4 separate regions of the Homo sapiens genome follow, and all the other regions are linked to region 1. Evidence: fine-mapped expression QTL. A gene starts in region 1. Each other region holds a variant in brackets. All regions are shown on one strand. Distances are between the middles of the regions.

Region 1 (5,768 bases):
CCCGTGGAGGGAGGGGGGATGTATCCCGTGGAGGGAGGGGGGATGTGTCCCCTGGAGGGAGGGGGGACAGCCCTGACTCTGGGCTGGAGAGGAGGAAGGAGGTTGGGCATGTGTTTTGCAGGTGGGGTCCTTTGATGTGGCCGCGTCCTGTGCACAGCAGATGCAGCATCGCCCCCTCCTGGACACCCAGCCTCATGACAACACGAAATGTCTCCAGAGGTTGGCCACTGTCCCCTGGGCCCGGGCACCTCTGGGGAAACACTGCTCTAAGCAAGAAGGAACGTTTCGTCCTACTTCACGTAATACGGCAAATATGAACATCAGATTTTTAAATGCCAACGGAAGCATAAAGCAAATGTACAGCCGGGCTAATCCCAGCACAGCCCATTTGTAGGAGAAGCTCCAGCCACAGCCCCTGCCTGCAAAGCAAGAAGGGTCACCTGCCCCAGGGTCAAGGACTCCACGAGGGGAGAGGGGGAGGGTCCGCTCCATGGTGCCCTTGTTTCAAGCACGTTTTCTGCTTACTGAATTCCATCAGTTAAAAGGTCTAGGAAACAGAAAAGGAAGTGGCGCGTGTCGCCGTCTGAGGATCTGCTGACGGGCCCCGGCCTCGTGGAATCCTCTTCTGCCTCTGTGGGTCTCCAGAGTTTCGGAGGCATCTCTGCTCCCACCGCGGGGTCTGGTGGCCACGGGGTCCCCAAGTCTGCAGGAGGAGCTGCTCTGTGTGGCGAGGGTGATGACCATGGCTCTTGTTCACTGAGCAGGGCCGGTGGCCAGCACTGTCCAAGTCACCAGTGCAGCCCCATAAGGCCATCTTCACAACATCCTTGGGGCCCGTTTCTCCCACTCCCGTTTCCATGGAGATGTGATTCACACAGCAATAGCCACGCCTCATGAGTGCAGAGCATGGGTCGGTGGTCAGTCCATCCACGGGGCCGTCCACCCATCACTGCCATCTGGCTCCCGGACACTCCTCTTCCCACAAGAACTCGTGTCCCTGACCAGTGACTGCACCTCTCCCCATCCAGAACACGCTTAGAACACACTTGCCTCCCCGAAAAGAACTCGTATCCCTGACCAGTGACTGCACCTCTCCCCATCCAGAACACGCTGCAAACACGCTTGCCTCCCCGAAAAGAACTCGTGTCCCTGACCAGTAACTGCACCTCTCCCCATCCAGAACACGCTGCAAACACGCTTGCCTCCCCGAAAAGAACCCGTGTCCCTGAGCAGTGACTGCATCTCTCCCCATACAGAACACGCTGCGAACACGCTTGCCTCCCCGAAAAGAACCCGTGTCCCTGAGCAGTGACTGCACCTCCTTTCCCAGTCGGCTTCTGTCTGTGGACACGCCTTCTCTGGACACTGCATATAAACAGAACACAGTCTTCATGTCTGGTGTCCTTCCCTGAGCACTGTGTGTTACAGCCTCAGCACCCGTTAGAGCTTCCTTCCTCTCCGTGGCCGGGTGACCCGCGTGTGGATGGGCCACGTCCTCTCCCTCTCTGTGGCTGGGTGAGACCCGCGTGTGGATGGACCACTGTAGTATTCTGTTTTCACACTGCTAATAAGGACATACCCGAGACTGGGAAAAAAAGAGGTTTAACGGGACTTACAATTGCACATGGTTGGGGAGGCCTCAGAATCACGGTGGGAGGCAAAAGGCACTTCTTACACGGCAGGAGCAAGAGAAAATGAGGAAGAAGCAAAAGCGGAAATCCTGATCAACCAGTCAGATCTCGTGAGACTTACTCACTATCACGAGAATAGCACGGGAAAGACCAGCCACCATGATTCAATTACCTCCCGCTGGGTCCCTCCCACAACGCGCAGGAATTCTGGGAAATACAATTCAAGTTGAGATTTGGGTGGGGACACAGCAAAACCATATCACCCATGTCCCTTCCTCTCTCCGTGGCCGGTGACCCCATGTGGACGGACCGTCACCCATGTCCCTTCCTCTCTCCGTGGCCGGTGACCCCACGTGGACGGACCGTCACCCATGTCCCTTCCTCTCTCCGTGGCCGGTGACCCCACGTGGACGGACCGTCACCCATGTCCCTTCCTCTCTTTGTGGCCGTTGGCCCCATGTGGACGGACTGTGTCCCTCCCCCACTCAGTAGTTGCCTCTGCTTGGGAGCTCTTGTGAGCAGTGCTGCTGTGTGAAATGTAGAAACTGAGGCAGGAGGAGACTCCCTGTAACCCAAGGTCCCAAGCTAATAAGGTGGGGCCAGTCTCAACGGACCCCTGCCCAGGGCAATGCTCTGACCCTGCCCTCCTCAGTCACAACCTGCAGCTACACTAGGCCCCCACCTCTGAGCTGCAGGAGAAGCCTGTCTCCTGTGCTGTCCCAGTGAGGCAGGGAGTGCAGGTGGGGCCACAGCACCCCAAACCCCCCAGCACCCCCTGCCCCGGGGCCACAGCACCCCCAAACCCCCCAGCACCCCCTGCCCCACCATCCCCTCCACCCCATCTCCCGCGGCCTCCAGGGTCTCACTGACCTCGGCTGTGCATGGGAACCAAGTGAGGGCGGGATTGGGAGCCCATCCCTGCAGAGGAGGCTGGGATCAGAAGGCCCCAGCGGAGCCCAGAGAGGGGGTTCATCAGACCGTGACTCAGGCTGGCAGAGCTTGGTGGCCCCAGACAGGATCCGTCCACATGAGACAGGTGCACCTCGAGAGCAGCCGCCGCCCACACTGCAGGCCAGGCATTGGCCGGAGCCCTGCGCCAGGTGGGAGCTGCCCTGGGACCTGGGGGACCCTCCAGCCACCACGAACCTTGAGTCAAATTGTTCACATTCTTTGTGGCTGGGATAAAGGATAAGGACATTTTTGTGGCAAGAACAAAACTGTTGACCTTGGAGTTGAATATTTTTGAACAGCTTTTGACTCTAGACAAGATTAAAAGTCGGGAAAGATCGATGTTGTGTTTGGGGGAAGCTGGTGAGTGCAGCCTCGGGGAAGCACTCTGATGCCCCCACACCGCACCCTGCGACCGAGGGCTGACATGAGGGGAAGGAGGGTTATTCCTGTGACTTTGCTGGCCAGAGCTCCAGGGGGCATAGACTCCCTGCCCAGACCTGCAGTTCAGCTTCTCTGCTGTTCGCACCCCTAGGACACCAAGAGGTGCTGGTGCCTGCACCAGGCAGCTTCGGGGGCACAGCCCGAGCTCCAGGGTGCCCAGGAACCGCCCACACAAGACCACGGCACCATCGGCGCCCATAGAGCCTTCCCTGAGGTAAAGTGAGAGCCCTGGGGACTCGGGAAATCCGTGGCACACTTTTCTTCCCCCACAGGCGCTCGTGAGTGCATCTCCCGGCGCTCCAGAAACCTCTTGGTCTCTGCTGCTTGTTCAGCTTCTTACTCGGAGCCAGGCACCCACAGCCCTGGAGGAACTGGGCGGTGATTTCCAGACAGGACGCCGCACCTCCGGCTCGTGCCCGACCTCCCGGACTGGTTCAAGGCCAGTCAGCCCTGAGAGGCCAAGACCACATTCTCCTGGACAGCAAGCTTGTGAGGCTGGATTTTATAAGATAAAAATGACAAGCAGTGGCGGGTTCACAGACCAGAGCTGGCTGCAGGCCTTTCAGAGGCCCGTTAGGGCCCCTGGGCCCAGCCAGCCACCGTTCATGTGTGGATGTGCGCTGTGGGCCTTCTGCCCAGGAGCGCTGGACACAGGATGAGACCCTCCGTCGGGCAGAGGGAGGCTCCCGGGCAGCGGAGGGGGCAGAGGCTGTGTGAGACCCTCCATCGGACAGAGGGAGGCTCCCGGGCAGCAGAGGGGGCAGGAGGCTGTGTCTGCACGAGTGTGGCTCCCCTCCACCTTATCTTTTTTCTCCCAGATCCAGGACTGGGCAGGGGAGAAAGTCCCCGCTCCACCTCCCAGGTGGGCACTGTTCCGTGAAGTAAGCTGGAGACCTCAGACCCACACGGGAGAAGAGCGGTACTTGTTTATCGTAGGCACGGGGGGCTTTGCAGGGAGGGACGTGAGGCCCTGAGAGCGGTGAGGCCTGGAGGCGCCAGCTTCCGAGGGGAGAGGGAGTGACTGGGGAACCGTGAGCGGCCCACAGAGCAGAGACGGCGACTTGGTGTCTTGTGGCACGTCTGGGGAGCAATGGGATCACCTCTCGCCCGCCCTCCCGCCCTGGGAGTCCCTGGTTCCCTGAGGATCTGACTTCAGGAGTTCAGAGAAAGCCTCTCCCCACATCCAACACTTTTCAAGAGACTTCGGCTACTTTGGGGTGGCGCATCCTGAACTCCTGTCACTGGGGCGCCTGTGACCCACCCGGGACCCGTGACCCACTCGGGACCCGTGACCCACCCGGGACCCGTGACCCACCCGGGGCCCGTGACCCACCCGGGACCCGTGACCCACCCGGGACCCGTGACTCACCCGGGGCCTGTGACTCACCCGGGGCCTGTGACCCACTCGGGACCTGTGACCCACCCGGGATGCCTGTGACCCACCCGGGACCTGTGACCCACTCAGGACCTGTGACCCACCTGAGACCTGTCCTGTGACCCACCCGGGGCCTGTGACCCACCCGGGACCTGCTGCTTCCCAGGCGTGCTCACCCGTCTCCCCAGGTGTGCCCGGCAGGTGCATGCTGGGCCCGCGGGGAGCTAAGCTGGTTTCCACAGGGAGTGCTGCGGCCCCAGACCCTGAGCCAAAGGACCCCGAAACACCGTCCCCCACCATCCCAGCGGCCAGGGGTCCTGAGACAAGGTGCGGTGAGGGAGAAGCCGCGGAAGGACAGCGGAAGCCCAGGCGCCGTAGCTGGGAGACAGCTCAGGGGAAGACCCTCGTGCCAGTGGCCCAGGCAGATTTGCATCCGGGGCTGGGAAAGACAACCGGGCCCCTGGATTCTAACAACTCACAGGCGGTTAGACACAGCGCTGGGCGTTGGAGCCGAAGCGTCCTTCCCTTCCTGGCATACGTCAGGAGCACAGCACGAGGGGCGGGTGGCTTCTGCCCTGCGCTTCTCCAGGACACAGATGCACACACGAACGTGTAACGCACAACACATGTCCACAAACAAGAACACACAGGCAGGGAGGCCGGGGCTGCACTGTCTTTGCAAAATCATAATAATAGCTAATTAATTAAGGGATGTGAAAACACCAGAACAATTGCTCTCAGAGGAGGAGGCCGGGTGGGAACTTTCAGCGCCATTTGATGTGAGCAGAGCCCAAGCCAAGGTGTCACCAGCCTGGGTCTGGAGGGCCCCACTCCCTGCCTGGTTCCAGCCTCCCTCACCAGTGTGCCCAGGGAGGAAAGGAGGGGACAGACTTCTGGAACATTCTCCCGGGTTCTCTAGGAGGTTGGCCACAGAAGCGGGATTTCTAGAGGCTGCCTTTTTTTTAAAAAAAAAAACAAACAAGTTATCTTTTACTCCACGCCTCTATCAGGGTGCGTAGGGGGGTGGCTTCTCCCCCGGGGGAAAGTAGGTGGGTGCGTAGCACGGTGGAGCCTGGCCGGGAAGCCCAGAGCCAGAGCTGCTTGGAGAAGGGGGCTGCAGGTCCTCAGACGAAGCCAGGGCAGAGGAGGGCGCAACTGGGAAGCGGCTGCAGGGCTGCAATAAACAGAGAGGGCCCTGGGTTAGCAGGTGAGACCACCCCGTGCCGGACCACAGGGAAGCCTGACATATACCAGGGCCACTCACACGCTCCCCACCCACCCCGCCAACCCAGGGCCACCCGCAGACTCAGGGCCATTCACATGGGCCCCCCGCAGACCCAGGGCTATTCACACAGGCCCCCTCAGACCTA
Region 2 (7,538 bases), 51 kb after region 1:
AATTAGGTTACCATCAATTTACCTCGCCGCCTTACTGTTCAAAATCTGGCCTGACGGGTGGATGAGGTCAGCACCACCACCTTCTGGCCGTTCCCACGCGATCACGTCACTAATACGATCTTTGACCCACGGCTTCTTGGTAGGAATCGTTTAAAGTTACTTTCCCCTTCCATGGGCTATGGTGGTCGACCTGGTCCCTCAGGGTAAAATCCTTCCAGGATGCTTGGGGAGGCTCTGTCCGGCCTTTTTGGACATCCTGGGCTCCTGGCCCCTCCTCCACCTTGGACATTTCCTGTTGCCGGGCTCTGGCCCCCCTCCTGCCCTCTGGTCACCCTGTGACCACATCGGGCCAACCCAGACAATGGAGGGCACCTGGCCCTATTTTGAGATCAACTTGGACCTCAACCCCAATTCCCCTCTGCCTTGGACCTGCCACTGTCCCAGGTCCTGGGGATTGGGAAGTGCATGTCTGTGGGGGCCATAACCCTGCCGACCACAAGCACTGATCGAAGCCTCCCCACCTTCAGCCCCAGCCCTGTGAGCTGGCGTGGACTCCACCCTGAGAGAGCCACACACCACCCTGCCCTCCCCGGCCCAGGCCGCCCGCCCGGCGCACTCACAATGATCCCTGGGTAGTAGCCCCCAACGGTCACATTCTCCGTCCTGGTGGTGGCAGCCAGCCCGACGGTGACTATGAGGACGGACACCAGCAGCAGAGACCCCACAAACCAGAGCGACGTCTTCTTCCTCCTCGAAAGCCCTTCTGTGGGGAGGAAGGCGAGGACCTGTCAGTGAGGGCTCAGGCTCAGGAGGGCGTCAGGCCAGCAGGCTCTGGGCCGTGCTCCGTTACCCAGGGGTCCTGGGATGCACTATCCCCGCCTGCCTCCAGGCCCACCTCAGGGGACCACCCCCAACCTCCATTAGATAACAGAATAAAATCTCTGGACCATAAGCCACTATACTGGATAGCCTGGTATTTGCGGCCAAACCTAATTCTAACTGTCACAGAACTCAAGAAAGCAAACTAGAAAGGACTCCTTCCTATTGGCTGCCTCTTCCTCTATCTGACTTTCTCCCCCTGGTGTCCCCAGGAGGACAGGAGCATCTTTTGTTTACTGTTTTATCATTACCATTCGCTCACAGACACACCCTCTCTATCCGCCTATCCCAGCCACACCCAGTGGGGGAGGGGGCTGCCACCAGGGGAGGGGCAGGGAGAGAGGAACGCACACAGCAGCCATCCAGCTGTGCCATCTGTTTTGCTTTATTTTTTGAAAACTGAATCATCTTGATCCCTGTGTGACTCCAAACAAAATAGGGGATTTAAAAAACCATGGTAAGGTCTTCCTACTCCAAGAGTTTGAAAATCAACATTTGTGTGTGTGCACATGTGTAAGTGCGTGTGTGCAGGGAAAGCAGACCGCACACTGGAGAGCCGCTGGCAGCGATGACGGCCGTGCAGACATTGTCCACACCCTAGAAGGTCCGCATCTGAAGATTTACACTTCTGCAATCCCATCAGCAGAGCTCAATGGCAAGGCAAGGTTATCGCACCCAAGGAAGGGATTGTTACATCCTCAGAAATGAGTTTCACAAAACTATAAATCAATGTGCAGATGCAGAATTGCTCTGCTGATCTGAGAGAGTCATTTTTATCCAGCTGACCCAGCAAGGGCGTGGCCTTGGTCACGGCCTTCCTTCAAGGCCCTCTTGGACTCAGCACAGCCCCCGGCACAGCACCCTGCCTGCCTCTTGACCCTTGCAAAGATACACTTGTCCCAAGAATCTCATCCTAAATCGCTTTTTACCTTCCACCTTGGAGGGGACCAGATCACTCCATTCGCCAATGTAATAAACCATCGGCTCCCACCAGCCAGCCAGGCTGCCCCCGTCTTGGACCCACTGCACCGAGGCGGCCAGTGGCACTGTCCTTAGTGTTATACTCCAGGCCGCAGGCAGTGGTTTCAGCCTCTCCCTGGTTGCCCCATCTCCTGCCTCCTTAGAGGCAGGCTTGTTGCAGCATCCACAGGGCCTTTGTACCTGCTGTCTCCAGCTAGACACTCGCAGCACTCCCTGAAGGCCTCTCTTACATGTTGCTGCATAGACACACTGAGTATAGTAGCCACACTCACCCCTGTGCTCTCCACAGTTGCCCCTTCACCCCTGCCCCTGCAGAGCATCCTCGCATGTGAGAGGCAGAGGGGACACCAGACAGACAGAGGCACACGCTGCAGGCATTGGAAAAGGCCAAGTTCAGTGGAGAAAACTTAAGCAGGGCTGGGGACAGGGCGCTCCGGATGTGTCACCCACAGGCAGCGGGCAGAGGGCAGAGCCTTCCCTGAGGGGCCTGGTGATGGCACAGTGCACCCCTCAGCCCAGCACCACTGGTGTGGAGTGAGGCCCTCCTTCTGAAAGCCACCCTCCTGAGACACCAGAGGCCGCAGCCCGGTGCGGGCCAGGGAGCAATCCCCACACCCAGCCTCAGGAACACGCCCTGGGGTTCGGGGTCCCTGCAGCCAGGGCCACACCTGCGCCCTCCGGGTCCCCAAGGCAGCTTCTGCAGGGGTCACACTGAATAAACCTAGAGGGGTGACAAGCAGGTGGGTGCAGGGGCGGGCACAGCACCAGGAGCCCCAAGGCCACACTGGCGGCCCAGGACCTGGCACCTACACATCCATCACCCAGTGTCTGTTAAAGTCATGCTCCCCCAGCCCCAACCCGTGTCCCCGTGTCCCACGCCCACGCCCCGGCCCATCCCACCCCAGGCCACACCTGCCTTCCTGTGTGCATGGAGCACGTCCTTTCTTGTCTTTGGATGGGGAGGACACTCCCCTCAAGTGACCGAGGCCCAGGCACCCGACACCTGCCCTGCATGAGGGGATGGGCGCTGCACCTGCCAGCCGGAACACACGGCCCAAGGCCTCCTCCAGCTCCGCCTCTCAGTCCCTCGCTTCTCAGCCTCAGGCTTCCTTCCTCCTCCCCACCTCTAACTCGCACAGTTCTTCCCTGTGTCTCTCATGGTATTTCTGAACTAAAAGCCAACCCTCGTTGGACTGGAAAAGGTTGGGAAGATGATAACGACATTCTTACAAGGAAAAGGGAGACAGTGGGTATATGTTGGAAAGTGTGATTTTTACGCTGCTCAGAAGAGCAGAGTGATTTTTTGTAGAACACTCATAAAGTACTGAAAAATGCAAAAGGGAAAATAAAATTCATGGTAACCTAAATTAACAAGTAGGCATAAAATCTTATGGTCTTTTTTCAATGCACTATGTACTTTTTAAAACATTTTTTTCTTAAATTAGGACCACAATGCTTTATAGTAATTTTTTCACTGAAATCTTGCAATTTGTTAAAAACCTGAAAGGTTATATGTTCACGGTCGTTTGCCC[G/A]AGAGACAGGAGCGATGGCGACAGATCCCGGGTCTCTGTCGGGAAGTCGAGGTGAGAAACGGCAAACCCACGCTGGGAGCAAGTGGGCAAGAGGAAGGCAGGCACCTCCCGTGGGTGAAACTCCGTTCTGGTTGATTCGTTTTAGAAAGGTAGGTAAACTTTTTAAAAATGGACACAAAATTTAAAAATATATGCAATTCCACATTTTGGAAGTTAATGAAACAGCTATTGTGGAATTACACAAAATAATCATATTGATGATAATAACACCATCTATGGATTGGGCTGTGTGTCGATTTTCAGAGCAGCCTAACTTCCTTATCTCATTTGATCATGACCAGAGGCTCCAGGTCACCCTCACCAGCCTCCATGTAACACCTGCCAATGCAGCCAAATGCTAGGTGCCTTCAACTCACACAATTCCCGCTTCAGCCTTTCCTGCTTTTCCTTAGGCTCCCATTCCAATCTTTTGACTGTTTAAATGTATTTTAAGAGCAATACAATTTCTAAAACTAAATTTTATGGGACTAAGTATTTGAGAAAATTATCAGACAAACGCTGTCCTTCTCAAAGGATTTTGTTGTGCGATTTTTCTTAATTAAATGCACTGCATGCATATAATATTATGCTCAAAATAGTTAACCAGATGACTCAGCGTCTGCTTCGACCCACAGGTAGAACCTTCCGTGGGGCTCCTGTCCCAGCCTCCTGTGGGCGTCCGTCTGTCAGGAACCCTGTGACTGGATTCTGGTTCTTAAAGCTGGAAGCTCTGCTCGGTTCCTTGGCATGAAGAGTGGGGGCCCAGCAAGACCCACTGGGCTAACTGACCTTGTCAAGTCAATCGGTAACATGCTGACTTGTTAATTACTATGCGAAGAGTTAGACACATCTCCTCTGAAACCACGTAAATCCTCCTACAAACCATTTTCAACCTAACTTTGCTATGTTTACCCCTCTTTCCTGAGTCTAACTTCCCCCCCATCTGCTACAAAATAAAAAGCAGAAGGTATGAGCCACCCTTTTATCAGCATTCCTATCACAGATTCCTAGATTATACAAGTCTAGAAAGACAGTAGAACTTACATGGGGCACTGGGAGCAATGGTTGCAAATCATCTCATTCAATTACACAATGGTGATATTTTGACTCCAGATATAATAGAGATAACAAAAAGAAGACTCCCAACCTTAAACACATTCTATAAATACATGACACAGCATAAAAATGAGAAAAAAAATAAACTCAAGAAAAGAAGGTGGGATATCTTTATAATTAGCATAAGAGATAATTATAAGGTCAGATTTTCAAGAGAAAGGGGCTTTCACTTAGGAGAAAGATAATTAAAATCACCTGAATAATTTCCTTGATTTTTTTTTTTTTCCTGTCCCGGAAATACTGTTATTACACGCACTGTGAAAATTAAAGTGCTCCTAAGTGCCCCAACTATTAATTAAAATATCTACCAATAGGTTTCTATTGCAGAGGCAGCTTACAGGGACTGGACCCAAACCATTCTGGGTCTGTCCAGACCCATTGTGTGGTCTTGGGCGGCCATTTAATCTCCCTGAGCCTGGGAGAAGAGAACCCTATGAGAGCCAAGAGCTCTGTCTCTTGTTTGTCGCCGGTTCCCGGGGCTCAGATGAGGACATAGACACATCTCCTGGTACGGAATGAATGAAGGCACTTCAGTCTCCTGACCTGTAGGATGGAAATCATGAGAACCACCTGCTCACCCACCTCTTGAGATTGTGATAAGCGTCCAGTGAGACACGATACGTGGGCTCTCATATAGGTTTTTGTAAATGGAATGCATATGCTAATCATCAGGGTGGTGTGAACTTTAAGACGGCGTAGCGGCTATTCTTAACCAGCATTTCTCCCACTGGAGTTGCAAGGAGGAGTTCTGAGATGTGAAGCTGAAGGGGCCAACAGCTACCTCTCTGCTATCAAGTGCGCTGATTTTTCTAATTCTAGTCTTCCCCAGGTGCAGCCCATCTAGGATATCTCAGAATATCACCTTGTCACTCCCCACCAGCCCCCACTTCTCCCATCCCACCTGCTCTCCCCTTCCTGGCTCCTTCCCCAGCCTTAGCTGGAGGAGCTGAACCACATGAGCCTGTGCCCACGCCAGGTCCTACCTGGAAGACACGCGAGGCTGGAGGTCAGGTTCTTCCTGCCCCTCAGACCCATTTCCTCTACTCCACAGAGCCAGGAAGGGGAATGTCACAAAGCATGGGAGGTGGCACTGCTTGGAAGGGTTCTAAGATCCGGCCTTCCTGCCAGCCGGACCTGGAACGCCCAAAAAGAAGAGTGAGTTCCATTTAATCATGTGGGGACACCAGTCATGGTGTCCAAGTAACAATCCCAGGTAAAACTGTAATCACTCAGCCGTCAATTCCTCTTTCGTCCTGATTTTACACATGCCCAGGGTAGTGAACAAAGAAGGGCAAAGCAGAAAAACCCATAATCCTACCCCCAGGTACCCCAAAGCAGAAAGACTATGGTCCACCCCCAGATACCCCAAAGCAGAAAAACCCACAATCTACCTCCAGACACACCAAAGCAGAAAGACCATAACCCACCCCCAGACACACCAAAGCAGAAAGACCATAATCCACCCCCAGGCACACCAAAGCAGAAAGACCATAATCCACCCCCAGATACCCCAAAGCAGAAAGACCATAACCCACCCCCGATACCCCAAAGCAGAAAGACCATAATCCACCCCCAGACACACCAAAGCAGAAAGACCATAATCCACCCCCAGATACCCCAAAGCAGAAAGACCATAATCCACCCCCAGATACCCCAAAGCAGAAAGACCATAACCCACCCCCAGATACCCCAAAGCAGAAAGACCATAATCCACCCCGACACACCAAAGCAGAAAGACCATAATCCAACCCCAGACACACCAATGCTTTATACATTTTAGTAAAAGACCAGCTCCAAACAAAAAGACCCATAATCCTACCCAGATACACCAATGTTTCATATACTAAAAAGACCAGCTCCAAGTATTGTTTTAAGGTTTAAAGTTCTTTGTCAGAAGAAAATCTAAGTCAGATGCTATTTTTAAACATTAAGGCATTCTAATAATGATAAAACTAGTTAATAAATAATAATAATAGTTATCATTATTAAACACCAATAGACTAATCCACATTAATACATTTGACCATAGAGCATTTTGCTTTAGATTGGAAGGCATATAGTGGTTTCTTTTAGAAAGAAGCCAAATTATTTGATTATTTTAAGTAACAGTAATTCGTCCGGTTCCGAACGATGCCGCAGTAAAAGGGTTGTGAGGTTAATCCCCAGAAGTTTGTGTTGGATTATTTCTGAGGGAGCGGCAGAGCCCCCTAGACACCACTCCATCCCTCCCTCCAGCCGTCAGGGCTTCACTTTCTAGGGAACTCTGTTTCTCTTTTGTTCTGAAATCTGCCCAGCCCTCTCCCCCTCAGGAAGACACCCGGCATCCTTCCAGTCCTGGCCACTTCCCGGCAGAGCCCCCGAGCCCGGCTTGCGAACTGGTGAACACGCAACAGGTTTCCTGTTTTCCCAGCCTTTGCCTGGCTCCGAGGCTGCAGCGGGCTTGGTCTGGGAAGTGGAAGAATTGGAGATTCCGTGAACACACCGGGGAGAAACACGAGAGAGGGGCGAGCCGAAACCAAGCAACACTGTCCAGTTCTGTGAGCGCCTCTGCACGTTCAAACAGGAAAAGGCTACCTCGCTCTTCCAAACGAAGTTTTCCCGGAAAATGGTGTAGGTTGGAATAAACGGAAGAGATGGGGAAGGAGCGCACTTTGGGGCGCCTGTTCCTCATAATAAAACGTAACAGGGAGAGAGAGGCCAAGAGGAACGGACACAGAGTCAGAGAAAGGCAAAGACTGAGGAGGCAGAGACAGAAAGAGCGAGAGAGACAGAGACAGAGACAGAGAGAGAGACAGGGAGAGAGAATGAATGAACGAACCGGTAGGACGAACGCCCGACCCCAGTGCGAAATGCAAAGTGTTCCAAAGACAGAGCTCGAAGGAGGCGGAGGGACCAGACCCCGTGCCGCGTCTCCGCGCAGGTTCCGCCCGGGCCGGCCGGGGACCTGTAGTCCCAGCCCCGGGGTCCCCACGCTCCCCCGCAGGAGCCGAG
Region 3 (7,538 bases), 34 kb before region 1:
GGTGGCATCTACTCATCAGACACTTTCTGTAGTTTTATAACAAATTTGGGGCCTCATGTTAGACCCCAGCCAGACCAGGCTCCTGTCCTGGGGCTCAGCTCCCTCCAAGCTGCTTCAGGTTCAGTTTCCTCCATGCTTACGAAACCGAAGGGCAACGGGCACAGTCAGGGAGGCGTCAGAGGAGGCACCGGCTCCACTGTTCACACCGGGACCTTCTGCAGACGGGGCTCCCAGCCTCGACCAGCCCCGGAACCCCCAGCACGGGGACGTCCAATCTTTTGGCTTCCGTGGGCCACATTGGAAGAAGAACTGTCTTGGGCCACACATAAAATTAACACTAACAGTAGCTGATGAGCTAAAAAGAAGGTCTGTGCCTAAAGCTCATGTTTTAAGAAAGTTTACGAATTTATGTTGGGCTGCATTCATGGCCATCCTGGGCCACTCACAGTTGCGCCAGAGCCTCGGGAGCACAGGCCGAGCACCTGCCCTGCTTCACCCAGGGACGGGGCCCTGCACTGACCAGGAGGCTGTTGCCCTCCAAGTCGTCCCTGCCGGGAACAGCAAAGCACACAAACCTCCGAGAGACCTAATGGCTGCATCCTCCGTGCAGTGGGCACCACGCTTGCCACCTAGAAGAGTGGGTTTGGCAGATGTCAGTTAATAACAAGGATGTAAGTTTTAAAATCACGTGGGGGTTTGTAAACTTGAGGAATTACAGCACAAACACTTCCATATTATTAAAAGAAACAGACTGGGAGCATTGATTTTGACTTTTCTTCCAAGTACTTATCTATGATTTAAGTGAAACTGAGCATTCAGTGCTCTGTGGGAGTGAAAACTGCAGGCCCTTGCACTTGCCCACTGATTCATTCATTCACCCATCCACCCACTCATTCATTCAACTATCCATGCACTCGCTCATCCATCCATCCACTCATTCCTTCATTTATTCATCCATCTCCATCCATCCAGTCACCCATTCACCCACTCACTCATCTATCCACTCACTCACCCACCCATTCACTCATCCATTCACCCACCCACTCACCCACCCACCTATTCATTCATTCATGTATTCATCTATCTACTCACTCTCATTCACCCATTCATTCATTCATCTGTCCATCCATTCACCTATCCACCCACTCATCCATTCATGTACTCACTCATCTACCCACTCACTCATTCTTTCATTCATTCATCCATTCACTCACCCATCCACCCACTCATTCATTCACTCATCTGGCCACTCACTCATCCACCCACTCACTCATTCATTCATACACTCACTCATCCATCTATTCACTCATTGTTTTATTCATTCATCCATCCATCCATCCACTCACCCATCTATCTACGCATTTATTCATTTACCCACTCAGTCATCCGTCCATCCTCATTCATTTATCCATCCATCTCCATTCATTTACTCATCCACCCACTCATTCATTCTTTCATCCACCCACTCATCCATCCACTCATTCATTTGTTCATTCATCCATCTCTATCCACTCATCCATTCATTCATTCCCATTCACTCATTCATCCACTGATTCATTCATTCATTCATCTGGTTATTCACCCATCCACTCACTTATCCATCCATGCATCTGTCTGCTCACTCATCCATCCTACTCACTAATCTATCCACCGATTCACTCATCCATCCATTCATTCATTCATCTGTGCATTTATCCATACATGCATCTATCCATCCATCTATCCATCTATCAATCCATCTGTTCAGTCATTCATCCATTCACTCATCCATCCATCCACCCACTCATTCATGCATCCATCTGCCCATCCACTCATTTATTCACCCATCCATTCTTTCACGCACTCATCCACTGTCCATCTGTCATCCATCCATGTGTTTGGTGACGGCTCATGAGGCCTCTGGGGGACAGTCAGCACCAGGCTCGGTGCTGGGCAGGTAGATGTTGTCTTTTTCCTCTTGAAGCTTCAGCTAACAGTGCAGTGGCTTGGGGTTTGCTCACTTATTTTTATCTGTAGCTGTTCAAATAAAACAGAAGCAGATCCCCGGGGAAAGGATTTCCAGGGGCCAAATGGCGCCATTTCCAGCCTGGGAATCCCAGCTTCTTCCCCCTGTTGCCCTCACCTAACCCCAGCACGCCAACCCATTACCATAGGTCTTGCTCTTCCTAGGTTTAGAAGAAAGAGAGTCAGTGTGTACATAAGGAGCTCCTGGTTCTAAATTCCGGCCTCCTGAGTGGTGGCCTCTGCTCCATGGGGACTCCTGGGGGTGCTGCTCTGGAGATATGGCTAATGCAGGGCTTCAGGCCAAGGTTTATGGACCTGAACAAGCAGTAGTGCAGACAGGGGTGGGAGGGTTTTGAGGACAAAGTGCTCTGTGTTTGGTTCTGCAGGTCAGGGAGCTTATCTGGGTGCCTTTACTCAAAGCCATTTCTGGGTCTTACATCTTTGGCTAGAATGTTCTCAGGACAATGTGAAATGTCTTTATCTCAGGAGTGTATACCAGAATGTTCTCAGGACAACGTGAAATGTCTTTCTTTCTTGGGAGTGTGTACCAGAATGTTCTCAGGAAAATGTGAAATGTCTCTTTTTCTTTCTCTCAGGAGTGTATAGCGTTTTTAGGTTTATTCATCTTAGCTTTTCTCTTGCTCATGGTTTAACCATCTTTCCCCTAGTTTGCCGGTGGAATTAGCATATGCTTTCTGCCTCCATTACTGTCTCAAATAATCAAACATGCAAATTAGGATACAGTGCCCAGGGCTATAACCCTGTGGTTTCAGAAACCCCATTCCCATAGGTGTGGCGAACTGACAGGAGATTGGCATAGTTTTTCCATGAATAATGCCTTTTTGCAACAATAAAACTTGGTATTAATACAGATTACACATTAAGTAGTATGACTAGTCTTGATTTTGAAAAATAGAACACACTTGCTGTAAAGCTGTGGTAATGCAAGCATTTGTGTATAGTTAGGCCGTTTGCTCACTAGTTCTTAGTTGTTTTCAATCCCTGGCTTCTAAACCTGAAAGGACACCTTTTGCATCCCTCGCAAGTCTTTTATTTCAGAGCCAGAGCCTCCTGCTTTGAGACAAAGCCCCATCACTTCCCTTCTCCTTCCAAGCCTAGAAACCTGGTGCCACTTCGTGTTGCTCCAGGACTCCACCAGGGCTCACTTGGTATGGCTGTTCTTGCCTTTTCTTGGAGTTTGCCAACCCATGACTAAAATTGGAAGTGAGAGAAATGAGGGCAGGCATGAGGGTGTGTGTTCCAGGTCTGCAGCCCTCCTGGCCTTCAGGGCGGCCGCCCTCCCAACAGACACGTGAGCTGCACACCAGCTCACCCTGACCCTTCCTTTCTCTTAAGGGAGTAAGAGTTTAAGAGCATCCCATCTTTCCTAGAACACAACTTTGTGAAAACACATCCAAGCAGGCCTCAGGAGGGTGTTGGCAAGGCTGGGGCGGGGCCTCCAGGCTCTTCCCACAAAAGGTGTGGCAAGGCCAGCAAGTGTGGGAGAGAGGTGGGAAGGAGGCAGAAAGGCCATGCAGAGCCAGCGCATGAAGCCAGAGGCGCGTTGCAGACGGCGCTGGGTACCTACCGCCTCTGTCTGCTACTCTGCAAAATGCTACCAGCGCCTGCTAATCCTGACCTTCATGCCCCCAGGTGAATCCCACAACCATCCTGAAGCCGGGTTTCCTCATTCCTGATAATGGGATTAAAAAGACCTTCCTGGGTGTTATTTGTGAGGATTTCATAAAATAGTGTAAAAATGCTGACTCATACCCAGCATGGAGAGGCCGCTGGGACTATTCTGCCATGACTGTGGTCTCTTGGTTTAGAGCATTTAGGGCCAAACTGCTGGCATGGTTGACCCTAAGCTGGAGATTGGAGGCTGCTTTAACCAGGCTGTGGCCCTAGAATCTGTGGGCCATGGCAAAAGGATCCTGAAGAAGTTTCCGGCCGGCCTCTGCTGGCCAAGTGACAGGCAGGTGGTTCCAGGACTCGACAGCTCACTTGTGTCGAATGTGGACCTCGTCAGTGCGCTTTCATGGATAAGAAGACCCTTCATTACAGCCTCCATCCTCACCCAGTACCAATTTTGTTTCACCAATACTATAAGTGCAAATCAATGCCCGTGTGCCAAAAGAAAGGTCTTTGGGGTTTTGAGAGACCTTTGTGTCAACAGGGAACTAAGGTCTTTGGGTTTTAGAGACCCTTATGTCAACAGGGAACTAAGAGTGGGGTTTTACTTGGAAGCATTCTTGTCCTCCTGGGCAGGCCTCTCCCCTGGACACACCTGGTAGCACTTCCTACGCAGCTGGAAATGGCCCTGCCTTTGCTTGTTGGTCTCACAGCAGTCGTGCCCCGGTCACTTCCCCTCAGTTCCCCGGGTGGGGCGGCCCTCTGGCTGCCCCGAGAGCAGCCTCTGATTAACCAGCTGATGCTTATGTTGTTCAGAGACCCTCGTAGTGTGCCGGTCAATGCTTGCCTTTTCTTTTTCTTTTTCCACAGGATTATTTTTACCCAAGATACTTAGGTAAGTCTCAATTACTTCTCTACTCTGGTTGTCGTAGAGGCATAGTTGGGGGTGCGTGTTTCATGTTGGAGGAATCTCCTCACCACGTAACTCTTGGAAGGAAGATTCTTAATCACATGGTGCACGTGGAACTGTCCGGAACATGCAGGTCAGAAACACAAGTTTCTCTCTTTATTTTATACCACAGCTTTATTCCGTGTTAGTGGAACCTCAGGTGAATGCTGTTATCTGCAAACCCCTTCTCTGAGTTGATGCCAGGCTCAGCTCCTTGTCAGGACGTGTAATTGATTTTGTCCTCCGGTTTTCTGACCTCAGCACTAATCACTTCTGAAGTCATTGAGGACCCCAAAGGGGTCCATGTTCATGTGGGCTGTATTGACTGATATTTACCGTATTCTTAATTAAAACCGAAAACACTGAATAGTGTTTCTGTTTAATTTGAAGAACGGGAATGCCAGACGTTATCTCAGCCATCAGAGCAGCTGGTGCATGTGGGGCGGCCTCTGGAGACCCCCACTGTACACTTGGGAAGGGAGGACAGCAAGAAAGTGAAACCCAGAGACCCCGGGTCAGCCCGTTTAACTGACACCATCTTAGAGCTCTTTGAGAGCATTTCACTTAGAAGGAGAGAAATGTATTCCAGGGTCTTCTTTTTAATGTTGCAAAGTGCATTTTAGTAAATGTCCTCTTAAAGGGTCCTTCCCTGGGTCCATATCTGGAACAAACACAGTGGGTCTGGCACTGGCCCAGAAAGCCCAGGCACCAGCGAGGACTGAGTTCTGAAGCAGGGGGTGGCCAGCGGTCCACAGCACACCTGCAGGAGGCCTTCCGCTGTTCATCCGTGCCGTTCTGCGCCTGGATAAGCAACAGTAACCCACTGAAGGGCCAGGTCGAGAGGCCCCGCACCGTTCTGCACAACCTCACGCTTCGGGTTATCCCTGGATGTGCATGTGCCAGGCCTCGCCTCCCCCCGCCGCCCTAGCGGGATGTCTGCTGTCAAGCTGTGTTCAGCCAGCCAGAGAGCATGGAGGGGCTTTCTCCAAAGCAGAGTGGCTTTCCAGTTAAGCACAGCGTTTCCCAATGGGGGTCCACTGGAAAATGAAGTTTAGCTTTTCGAGTACCGTCAGGAACTTACTGAGCATTCCCGGTGATTCTCCCGTATGGCAGGAGGAGCCCCCTCGAAACGGCGGGCGGTGCTTTACGCACTTGACTGTGGGTGCACAACT[C/T]CGCTGAGTTGGTGGAGGTGGTTTCCTGTTTGTCAGGGTTGGGGCTAACATGTTTTTTATTAACACAAGCTAAGCGGCATTGTTTCTGGAGGATGATAGCACCCCAGGTAAGCAGAGTAACTGCCTCTCCAGAGCGTCTCAGAAGCAGAGGCTCTGCAGTCCATCCGGTCTTGTAAGGATGACTGACATCCATTCCCTTTCTTCCTGCAGACTGCATCAACAAGTATGGGTCTCCGTACACCAAAAACTCAGGCTTCGCCACCTGCGTGCAAAGTAAGTCGGCCTCCTTTGCGCCTTCCTGGGAGCACTGTGGGTTTGGGCGGCTTTAGGCTTGGCTGTGGTTTGTGGAGGGCCCTGAATAGTTCTGTTTTTTAAGGAGCTGTGGTCCCTTGCCGAGGCCTGCTCCCTTTTCGCCAAACTTTCTTTTTTAAACAAGTAAATTTTGACGTTTTTAGCAATAGGCAATAAATGCACATGGAACAAAATGTAAATGTTTCACAGAGTGTGATGTGAAAGCCCATCCCCGCCTCTGAGTCGTCCAGTCAGACACCACCGTAGTTACAGTTCCAAGAATCTTGTGCTTAGACATGTAAACATGTGTGAGCGGCCTTCCGCTCTTCACACGCGTGGCGGCTTAGCACACACGGTCTGTCCCGTGCCTCTGCAACTCTGTCTGCACAGGAGACCCTCTCTTAGCGTGTCTCACCTTCACGCTGGCATTTCCAGCCGGTGCATCATATGAACTTAGCCCATGCATATTGGCTGATGTCCAGGTTATTTCCAATTTCCATCATTTAAACAAAACTGGCGTGACATCCTCATGCACCTGTTGCCTCCCACACGTCTGAGTGTCTGCGGGATGCGTTCCCAAGGATGGAATCGCAGAGGCAGTCCTCATGTTTCCTTTGGATACAGATACTGCCAAATTATCCCAGAGCCAGCCTTAGCCTCCGCCCCTGCAGGGGTGAATGAACTGTTTTTTTAAACTTTTGATCTCTTCCAATGTAACAGGCGAGAAATGACATCAGTCATTTCAGGTTTTTTTTTTTTTTTTTAACTAATGAGTAAAGCTGTCCTTCATAGGTTTAAAAACTGTGTATTTCTTTTCCTATAAACTGTTGTTTATATTTTTTGCCTGTTTTTCTCAATTTGTAGGAGTTTGCACATTAGCCATTGGTAGTAAAGTTATCAAAAATTTTTTCAGCTTGCCACAAGTCTTTTTTATTATTTTAAAATTATCATGCAATAAGATTGATTGTTTTGGGTGTCCTGTATGAATTTTAACATACCTTCAGCACAACCCACACAGCTCCCCTTGCACTGGGTCTGTGGTCCGCTGGCGTCACGTGTGTCTAGTTTTAGATGAAAGTCCAGCTTGGTGAGTCCCTGTGGGCGCTGAGAGCAGAGGCGTGGCGGGACGGAGTCATCCTGGGAGAGGCAGGAGTCTCTTCCCAGGCATGGCTTTGGAGCTGGATCCCAGTCAGCAGAAGGAGTCAGAGGTGGCTCAGTCCCGCTCCCCAAGCCCCACGCACTGTCCGTGGGCGTCTCTGGCCTCCCGGACTTGTATCACAGACCCCAGCCCAAGAGACACAGGCAGAGGAAATGCTCAGTGTAAACATGGGAATGGGAGGGTGGCCCTGCCCTGTGGCCCGGCCTGCCCTGACCTGCAACCATGCACAGTAGCCAGGTGCCACGTAGGGCCCAATGTCTGCATTTGGGGCAGAGGCTCCTGCGTGCTCAGAGGAGACAAGCAGATCCTGTCACGCGTGTTTTATCTTAGT
Region 4 (7,538 bases), 26 kb before region 1:
TTCTCTGACTTGGTGCTCACGGTGCTGTCCTGGCTTCAGTTCACTGGTTATCGGTCATTGTGAAATTAAAGCCATAGCCCCATAAAGTCCAAATTCAGCCCCAGACAAGCAGGCCCCCAGCGGGCCTTGCATGGGAGCCTGCGGCCCTCAGGCTGTCCCAGGACCCAGGCGGCACAGTGGACGGAGGGAGGAGGCCTGGGAAGAGTGTAGGCTGCGTTCCCAGGTGCCCCTGAAGAGCCTCTGCTTCCATTTCTTTCCTTTCCCACGGACACACCCAGCTTCTCCACTGCGAACGCGCCCGTCCTGCCATAGCGGCCACTTGGTGCTTGGATTTCTCGGCTCCTTTGACCCATGGGTTTCCCCAGGAAGGTCAGGTCCCCACAGGCGGTGGCCCAGGCAGCGGTCACTGAGCCCCGGCTACCGGGATCCCACCCCCGCCACGGGGAGTGTCCCCTCGCCCTTCCCTCGGGCAGACAGGGCTCTGGTCCTCGCTCGTCACCACCCAGGGAAAGGCCCTGGCCGCCCGCACCGGCTTCAGATTCCAGCCACAGCCACAGCCGCTCCCTCCTGTCCTTCAACGCAGTCATGGGCCAAGCTGAGATAAACCCTTCACCTCCTGAACAGGCGCTGGCGCCCAGGGCATGACCAGCCAGGCCACCGATACCCTAGGCCCAGCTTGCGGGATGGGGATCAGGGAGGTGGGCGGGGGTCAGGGAGGTGGACGGGGTCAGGGAAGTGGGTGCCCTCGGGGGCCTGCAGAGGTTTCTGTCTCCATCGCTTTCCCTGTTGTGTGGAGGAAATTCCACAGATATTTGCTGGGCACCGGCTGACTGTCCACCCCTCAGGTGTGGTTCCGTCCTTGCATCCTAGAGGTATCAATACATTCCCAACAGGGAAATAAACAAATGAGTTGGGGGAGGCCCCGGGGCAGGTGGCATGAGTCTGGGGACCGCTTAAGAGCTGGGCACCTGGCAGGAGCAGGCACTGTCCCTCAGCCTCAGGGACAGAGGTCTTTCCGAAAGGCATTCCAGGCAAAGTCAAGACCGGGTTCCCAGCCCTTTGCATCACATGGGCAGGTGTCCACTTCTGAAATGGCTTTAATCTCTAACCAAACATCGTAGCGGCAGCGCACAGCATCCCCCAGACATCCCTCCATGGTGGGGGCCTCTGAGGAGGTCAGGTTCTGGTGCCGGAGGGTTGGGCCCTGCACAGGCCGCCTGCCCTGCACGTGTCTGACTCCCTCCTGCCCCCAGAGCCTCTTCATCTGAGGCCAGGGTGGAGAAGCGGATACGCCCCTCATTTCTCTAGTTCAGGCCAGACCTCCCCGTTCCAGGCCCTGCTATGACCACATCGACGTCTCCAGACGCCCCGCGGACACAGCACCCAGGTACAGCCGGGCGACAGCAGTGTCAGGGATGGGGCCCCGGCCGGCTCCTGGCGGCTGTGCTGATGCAGAATCCCTGGTCCTGGTCCTCGTTTCCTCGTAACTCCGAAGGCCAGCCCCAGCCCCTGTGTGCTTCAGAGTAGAAAGCGTTTATAGTGACCTGCTGAAAATAGCATCTTAGAAACACTTCGAGACGCGAGCTCCGTCCACACCCACAAGTGTTCTGTTGTCAGTCATTTGTGCAAAACAAGCAAACGGAGGTGTAGGGAGGAAACTGTGGGGTGTACTGAGGAAACTGAGGCTTATAGAGGAAACTGTGAGGCAGACGGAGGAAACTGAGGTGTATGGAGGAAACTGAAGCATACAGAGGAAATTGAGGCGTATGGAGGAAACTGGGGCGTATGGAGGAAACTGGGGCGTATGGAGGAAACTGGGGCGTACAAAGGAAATTGAGGCGTATGGAGGAAACTGGGGCGTATGGAGGAAACTGAGGCATATGGAGGAAACTGTGGGGCGTACAGAGAAAATTGAGGCGTATGGAGGAAACTGTGGGGTGTATGGAAGAAACTGGGGGGCGTATGGAGGAAATTGAGGCATATGGAGGAAACTGTGGGGTGTATGGAGGAAACTGGGCATATGGAGGAAACTGTGGGGCGTATGGAAGAAACTGTGGGGCGTATGGAGGAAACTGTGGGGCGTATGGAGGAAACTGTGGGGCGTATGGAGGAAACTGGGGGGCGTATGGAGGAAACTGGGCATATGGAGGAAACTGTGGGGTGTATGGAGGAAACTGGGCATATGGAGGAAACTGTGGGGTGTATGGAAGAAACTGGGGGGCGTATGGAGGAAATTGAGGCATATGGAGGAAACTGTGGGGTGTATGGAGGAAACTGGGCATATGGAGGAAACTGTGGGGCGTATGGAGGAAACTGTGGGGTGTATGGAGGAAACCGGGGCGTATGGAGGAAACTGGGGCATACGGAGGAAACTGTGGGGCGTATGGAGGAAATTGAGGCATATGGAGGAAACTGGGGCATACGGAGGAAACGCGGGTGTACGGAGCAAACTGTGAGGCATACGGAGGAAACGCTGTGAGGCATACGGCGAAGCGTCGCAGAAAGAAGCCAGTGTGGTTGGGCAGCTTCCCCAAGAAGCCTGGGACTCGTAGCCAGGGCCTCTGGTGAGCGCGGTGCCTGGACCCGCCTAGGAGGACAGGGGCTGTGTCTGTGCCGGCCACAGGCAGTGACTGTAAGCCCTGGATGAGCTGGAGGAACTCAGCTTTGTGAACCACAGACCCGCCCGCCGCTCACCCTGGCACCGGGCACCCCTGACCCCGGCCAGGTGGGGATGGAAGCGGCTCCTGCACTGACAGCCGAGCCCAG[A/C]CCCTCTGGTGGAAACGCCACATTCTACAGACCTGGTGGGAAACGTCACCTTGGGAGCCTCAGGAACAGAAGCGACACGCTGGCAGTGAGAGCCCATGCACTGAAGACTCGACGTGCCCCCACCAGGGCTGACCCCTTAGGACGATGCTGGCCCAGTGCCCTAGGGCCCTGCTGGCCCGGCCTGCACTTTTCCCAGGGACTGGTCCTTATTGAACTTGTGTGGAATCAATGGACCGGAGCCCTCTCTCAGCCAGCAGGGGGGCCCTACCCAGGGTTCCCCACGGAGCCCTGTGTGGCTAAGCTGAGCGTGGCTGAGTCCTCATGTGGGGCTGAGCTGAGTGTGGACCGCGCCCCTGAGCACTGCCATGCTCAGCCCCGAGCTGCTTCTGCTCTGCCAGCAGCCATGAAAGGATTCTTTGAGCTCCGGGTGTAATTGTCGTTCTTTCTGCCAACTTCCCGGGGCTCAGGCTTGCGTAACTGCACTGTCGGGGGCTTCCCTGCCTGCCTCTGGGACGTGGTTTGGGTCCGTGTCCTGGAAGCGTGTTTGTGAGCAGCTCCTCGTATGAATGTGTTTGTGAGCAGCTTCTCGGATGGGGGACTGCTTGGGAAGCAGCTGCACTGGCACGGGTTCCCACCCTCAGGCCCTCACCCGTTCCCCTGACCTCTGGCCCTGCAGGAGCTGAGCCCAGGTGACCACCCTGAGAAAGGGCAGAACACACCTGGCCTAAAGCCATCAAGACACGTGGAGAGGGGGCAGCTAAGCAGAAAGAGGGGGGCTTCCTGGAGGACCCCTCTGGCAGTGCAGCCTGGGCCTGGGGTCCTCCCCGCCACACCCAGCAGGGAGAGTTCACCAGAGATGGGCTAGGGGCTGGCCAGGGAAGGCAGAATGTTCCGAGTCTGCCTGGAAGCCCCCAGGTCAGCTGGGGGTTCTGTGTGCCTACTCCCTGGGAGGTCTGAGCTCCCAGGCCTCACGCCAGGCAGTTCCTGCTCCTTTGCCCTCAGCCCTTCCCACCTTGCGTCCAGGCCTGCTGGCACTCCCTCCCAGTTGATCTGAGTTTTCCTGGAGCCGGCCCCAGGGCCCGCCAGCCTATTCTGTCAGCCCTAGGCCAGCACAGAGGGCTCGGGTGCCCAGGGGCTGCCTCAGCCTGCGCCCCTCAGAGCTCCTCCGGGCTGGACCCGAGACCCCACAGCCGCCCCGATCTCAGCTGCGTTGGGCGCGCAGGGGTGGGGCAGCTGAACATGATTTTCCACTTTGTGTCCCCAATCAGACCTGCCTGACCAGTGCACGCCCAACCCCTGCGATAGGAAGGGGACCCAAGCCTGCCAGGACCTCATGGGCAACTTCTTCTGCCTGTGTAAAGCTGGCTGGGGGGGCCGGCTCTGCGACAAAGGTACGTGAGGCTGAAGACAAAGGCGGGGTCTCCCTCCATCTCCGACCCTGCCCTGATCCCCGCTCCTCACTCCCACTCCGGGGCACGGCCATCCTCAGGCTGCTCTCCGACAGCCCCAAGGAGGCTGCAGCCCTGAGGTATCCTGGAGCCCCAGGAGAATTGGGAGGAGCTGCAGTCTCCTTTCTGGGAGCAGGGCTGGAAGGAAAGGAAACACCAAGTGATGCCTCAGCACCCACTGATTGAAGGGCGGGGGGGGAAATTTCACCTCTGACCGTCCTTGAGTGCAGACCTGTGGTGTCAGTGGCACCCACTGATTGAAAGGCGGGGGGGAAATTTCACCTCTGACCGTCCTTGAGTGCAGACCTGTGGTGTCAGTGGCACCCACTGATTGAAAGGCCGGGGGGAGATTTCACCTCTGACCGTCCTTCAGTGTAGACCTGTGGTGTCAGTGAAGACCCTGGAGGAAGAATAGCTCCAGGGCCTGGTGGAGACCCATAGTGGAGAGCCCAGCAGGCCAGCCTGTCCCCTTTGGCAAATCCTACCCCACAGGTGGCCTGGGAGGGCTTTGCTAAGGAGTGGCCAGCTCTGGCCTGGCCTTGTCTGTCCTCGGCACCCAGAGGTCACTCCTGGCCTGCAGCCTCCTCCTGCAAGCACATGGGCATCCAGGGAGCTGAGCCCTGTGGGCTGTGACTGCCAGCAGCTCCCCAGGCTGAGACCGCAGCTGGGGATCCCCCATGCCCTCCCACCATCTACCTCCACACGCAAGGCCAGGACCAGGGGCCATGAAACGCTAGGGCTGCTGAGTGGGGTGTGAGGTCCAAGCCCTGGGGTCCCTCTCTGCTCCAGGGCTGGGCTGTGCACCTCTAGGATCTCTCTCTGCTCGGGGGCTGGGCTGTGCACTCCCAGGCTCTCTCCCTGCTCCAGGGCTGGGCTGTGCACACCCGCGGTCCCTTCCTCCTGCTCCAGTGCTGGGCTGTGCACCCCCCCGGCTCCTTCCCTGCTCCAGTGCTGGGCTGTGCACCCCCGGGCTCCCTCCCTGCTCCAGGGCTGGGCTGTGCACCCCCGGGGTCCCTTCCTCCTGCTGCGGGGCTGGGCTGTGCACCCCCGGGCTCCCTCCCTGCTCCAGGGCTGGGCTGTGCACCCCCGGGGTCCCTTCCTCCTGCTCCGGGGCTGGGCTGTGCACCCCCGGGCTCCCTCCCTGCTCCAGGGCTGGGCTGTGCACCCCCGGGGTCCCCTCCTCCTGCTCCGGGGCTGGGCTGTGCACCCCTGGGCTCCCTCCCTGCTCCAGGGCTGGGCTGTGCACCCCCGGGGTCCCTTCCTCCTGCTCCGGGGCTAGGCTGTGACCCCTGGTCTCCCTCCCTGCTCCAGGGCTGGGCTGTGCACCTTTGGGATCTCTCTCTGCTCCAGGGCTGGGCTGTGCACCTCTGGGCTCCCTCCCTGCTCCAGGGCTGGGCTGTGCACCTCTGGGATCTCTTCCTACCGTAGCCAGGGGCTGTGCACCCTTGGGCTCCCCTTCAGGCCTGTGCTTGTTCCCAGATGTCAACGAATGCAGCCAGGAGAACGGGGGCTGCCTCCAGATCTGCCACAACAAGCCGGGTAGCTTCCACTGTTCCTGCCACAGCGGCTTCGAGCTCTCCTCTGATGGCAGGACCTGCCAAGGTAAGGCCCTGGGGTGAGGCCTCTCTCCTCTCTCCTCTCCCCACCTTCTATTTTCGGTCATGTCTGCTCTTCTGCAAGCGGCTGCTGCTGGCTGGGTTCCTGTGGTTCTGGATGGGATGGGGCATCCTGCAGAGACTACACAAGCCCAGGCCAGCCGCAGCACAGGGAGCTGCTCGGCACCACACCAGGATGACTCACCCGGCATCTGAGGGCCAGGACTCAGGGGGCCGGCCCAGCCCATGAGGCCACACTGCTGGCTGTAGGGCCTCGTCCATTCCCCAGAGCCTCACAGAGCCTGGAAGTGCTCCAGGCACTTGTGTAGTGAGCTTGTGGGTCAGGGCTCCAGGCTAGGGTCCCCCCGCCGTCCACTCTCCCCAGCATCCCCAGAAGCACCCCGTTGTTGGTCTCCCTCTGTCCACTAAATATAGCCCTGCCCTCCCCACTTCCTTTCATATTTCAGTCTGGGGTTCCCTCAGCCCAGGGCCAGAGCTGGGGAGCCCCAGGACACCCCAGAAAGTCACTGTGAATGTGCGCGCCCCCGACGCTGTTCCAGGTGCTGCTGCTGCCACTGGCCCTTTGCCACTTTGCAGGGGGAGCACCTTCCTCCTCCCTCCCCACGTTGTATCTGGACATGCCCAGGCGTGTCCCTGAGAGTTTCTGGCATAGTTCTTAGCGCTGCTGCTGACTGTCCAGGACACCGAACTGCGTGGACAGGACAGACAGTTGCTCAGGGAGAAACAGCCCCAGGATCTGGAGAGTGAATCTGACCAGACAGGAGGGGCCACACCCCATCCCCCGATTTCAAAAGGCAGCTGCTATTTCTGTCCACTTTGGTGGTTCCCTTCCCTGACCACCCAGGAGTTAGCCCTGTGTGCAGATGACGTGATTCCCATCTTAACACATAAACCCATTTCCCCGCCGAGGACAGAGCCCCTCCCATCACTGCTCTATCCCTGACCTGGAAGACAGCAGCACCCCAGGTTTAAAGAGAGGTGAAGACTAGGCCGATCCTGAGAGATGACGTCTAAAGCATCTCCCGTGGGTCCCTGCACCAGTCGGGCACTCCCGGCAAAGTCTAGGCTCACAGTTACTGCCCACAGTGACAGAGGCATTCCCGTCCTCTCCTCCTCCTCCCCATCTTCCTCTTCCTCCCCACCATTCCCCCTCCTCCTTTCCCCACTCCCCCTCCTCCTCTCCCCACTCCCCCTCCTCCTCCCCCCCACTCCCCCTCCTCCTCCCCATCTTCCTCCTCCTCCTCATCTTCCTCCTCCTCTTTCTTCTCCTCCTCCCCCCACTCCCCCTCTTCCTCCCCATCTTCTTCCTCCCCCTCCTCCTCCTCATTCCCCTCTTCTTCCTCCTCATTCCCCTCTTCTTCCTCCTCATTCCCCCTCCTCTTTTTCCCCCTCCTCCTCCCCCATCCTTATTTCCCCTCTCCTCCTCCTCCCCCACCCCTCCCCACCCCCTCCCTCACCCCTCCCCACCCCCTCCCTCACCCCTCCCCACCCCCTCCCTCACCTCCTCCCCCACCCCTCCCTCACCTTCTCCTCTTCCTCCCTGCTTCTCCTCCTCCTCCCCCTCCGTCGTCCTCCCCCTCCGTCCTCCTCCCCCTCCGTCCTCCTCCTTCCCTTCCCCATTCTCCTCCCCCTCCCCCTCCTCCTCCCCCTCCTCCTCCTCCCCCTCCTCCCCCTCCTCTCCATCCTCTCCCTACCCCCTCCTCCTCCC

The links.
Region 2: its variant is fine-mapped to the expression of GAS6-AS1 in whole blood (TOPMed, PIP above 0.99).
Region 3: its variant is fine-mapped to the expression of GAS6-AS1 in whole blood (TOPMed, PIP above 0.99).
Region 4: its variant is fine-mapped to the expression of GAS6-AS1 in whole blood (TOPMed, PIP above 0.99).

What each region holds. Positions count from the first base shown.
Region 1 is chr13:113,811,540-113,817,307 of GRCh38, reverse strand. It overlaps GAS6-AS1 (GAS6 antisense RNA 1), which reads right to left and starts at 1,698. Exons shown (of 5, transcript NR_044995.2): 1 at 1,617-1,698. TMEM255B (transmembrane protein 255B) reads right to left here. Exons shown (of 9, transcript NM_182614.4): 9 at 313-5,572. The coding sequence ends at 5,405. RefSeq lists enhancers at 1,275-1,394, 1,455-1,694, 1,745-1,814.
Region 2 is chr13:113,759,340-113,766,877 of GRCh38, reverse strand. TMEM255B (transmembrane protein 255B) reads right to left here. Exons shown (of 9, transcript NM_182614.4): 2 at 621-763. Among named protein-coding and RNA genes, the nearest start is that of TMEM255B, 3.9 kb to the right of the region's middle. RefSeq lists an enhancer at 6,933-7,434. The variant G/A (reference allele first, on the strand shown) is at 3,393.
Region 3 is chr13:113,845,019-113,852,556 of GRCh38, reverse strand. GAS6 (growth arrest specific 6) reads left to right here. Exons shown (of 15, transcript NM_000820.4): 3 at 4,507-4,531; 4 at 5,968-6,030. Among named protein-coding and RNA genes, the nearest start is that of GAS6, 15 kb to the left of the region's middle. RefSeq lists enhancers at 1-113, 2,838-3,459, 3,460-4,083. The variant C/T (reference allele first, on the strand shown) is at 5,758.
Region 4 is chr13:113,836,347-113,843,884 of GRCh38, reverse strand. GAS6 (growth arrest specific 6) reads left to right here. Exons shown (of 15, transcript NM_000820.4): 5 at 4,035-4,157; 6 at 5,694-5,816. GAS6-AS1 (GAS6 antisense RNA 1) reads right to left here. Exons shown (of 5, transcript NR_044995.2): 4 at 5,638-5,808; 5 at 1,044-1,516. Among named protein-coding and RNA genes, the nearest start is that of GAS6, 24 kb to the left of the region's middle. RefSeq lists enhancers at 3,878-4,454, 4,626-5,178, 5,834-5,893, 5,733-6,285, 6,394-6,603. The variant A/C (reference allele first, on the strand shown) is at 2,767.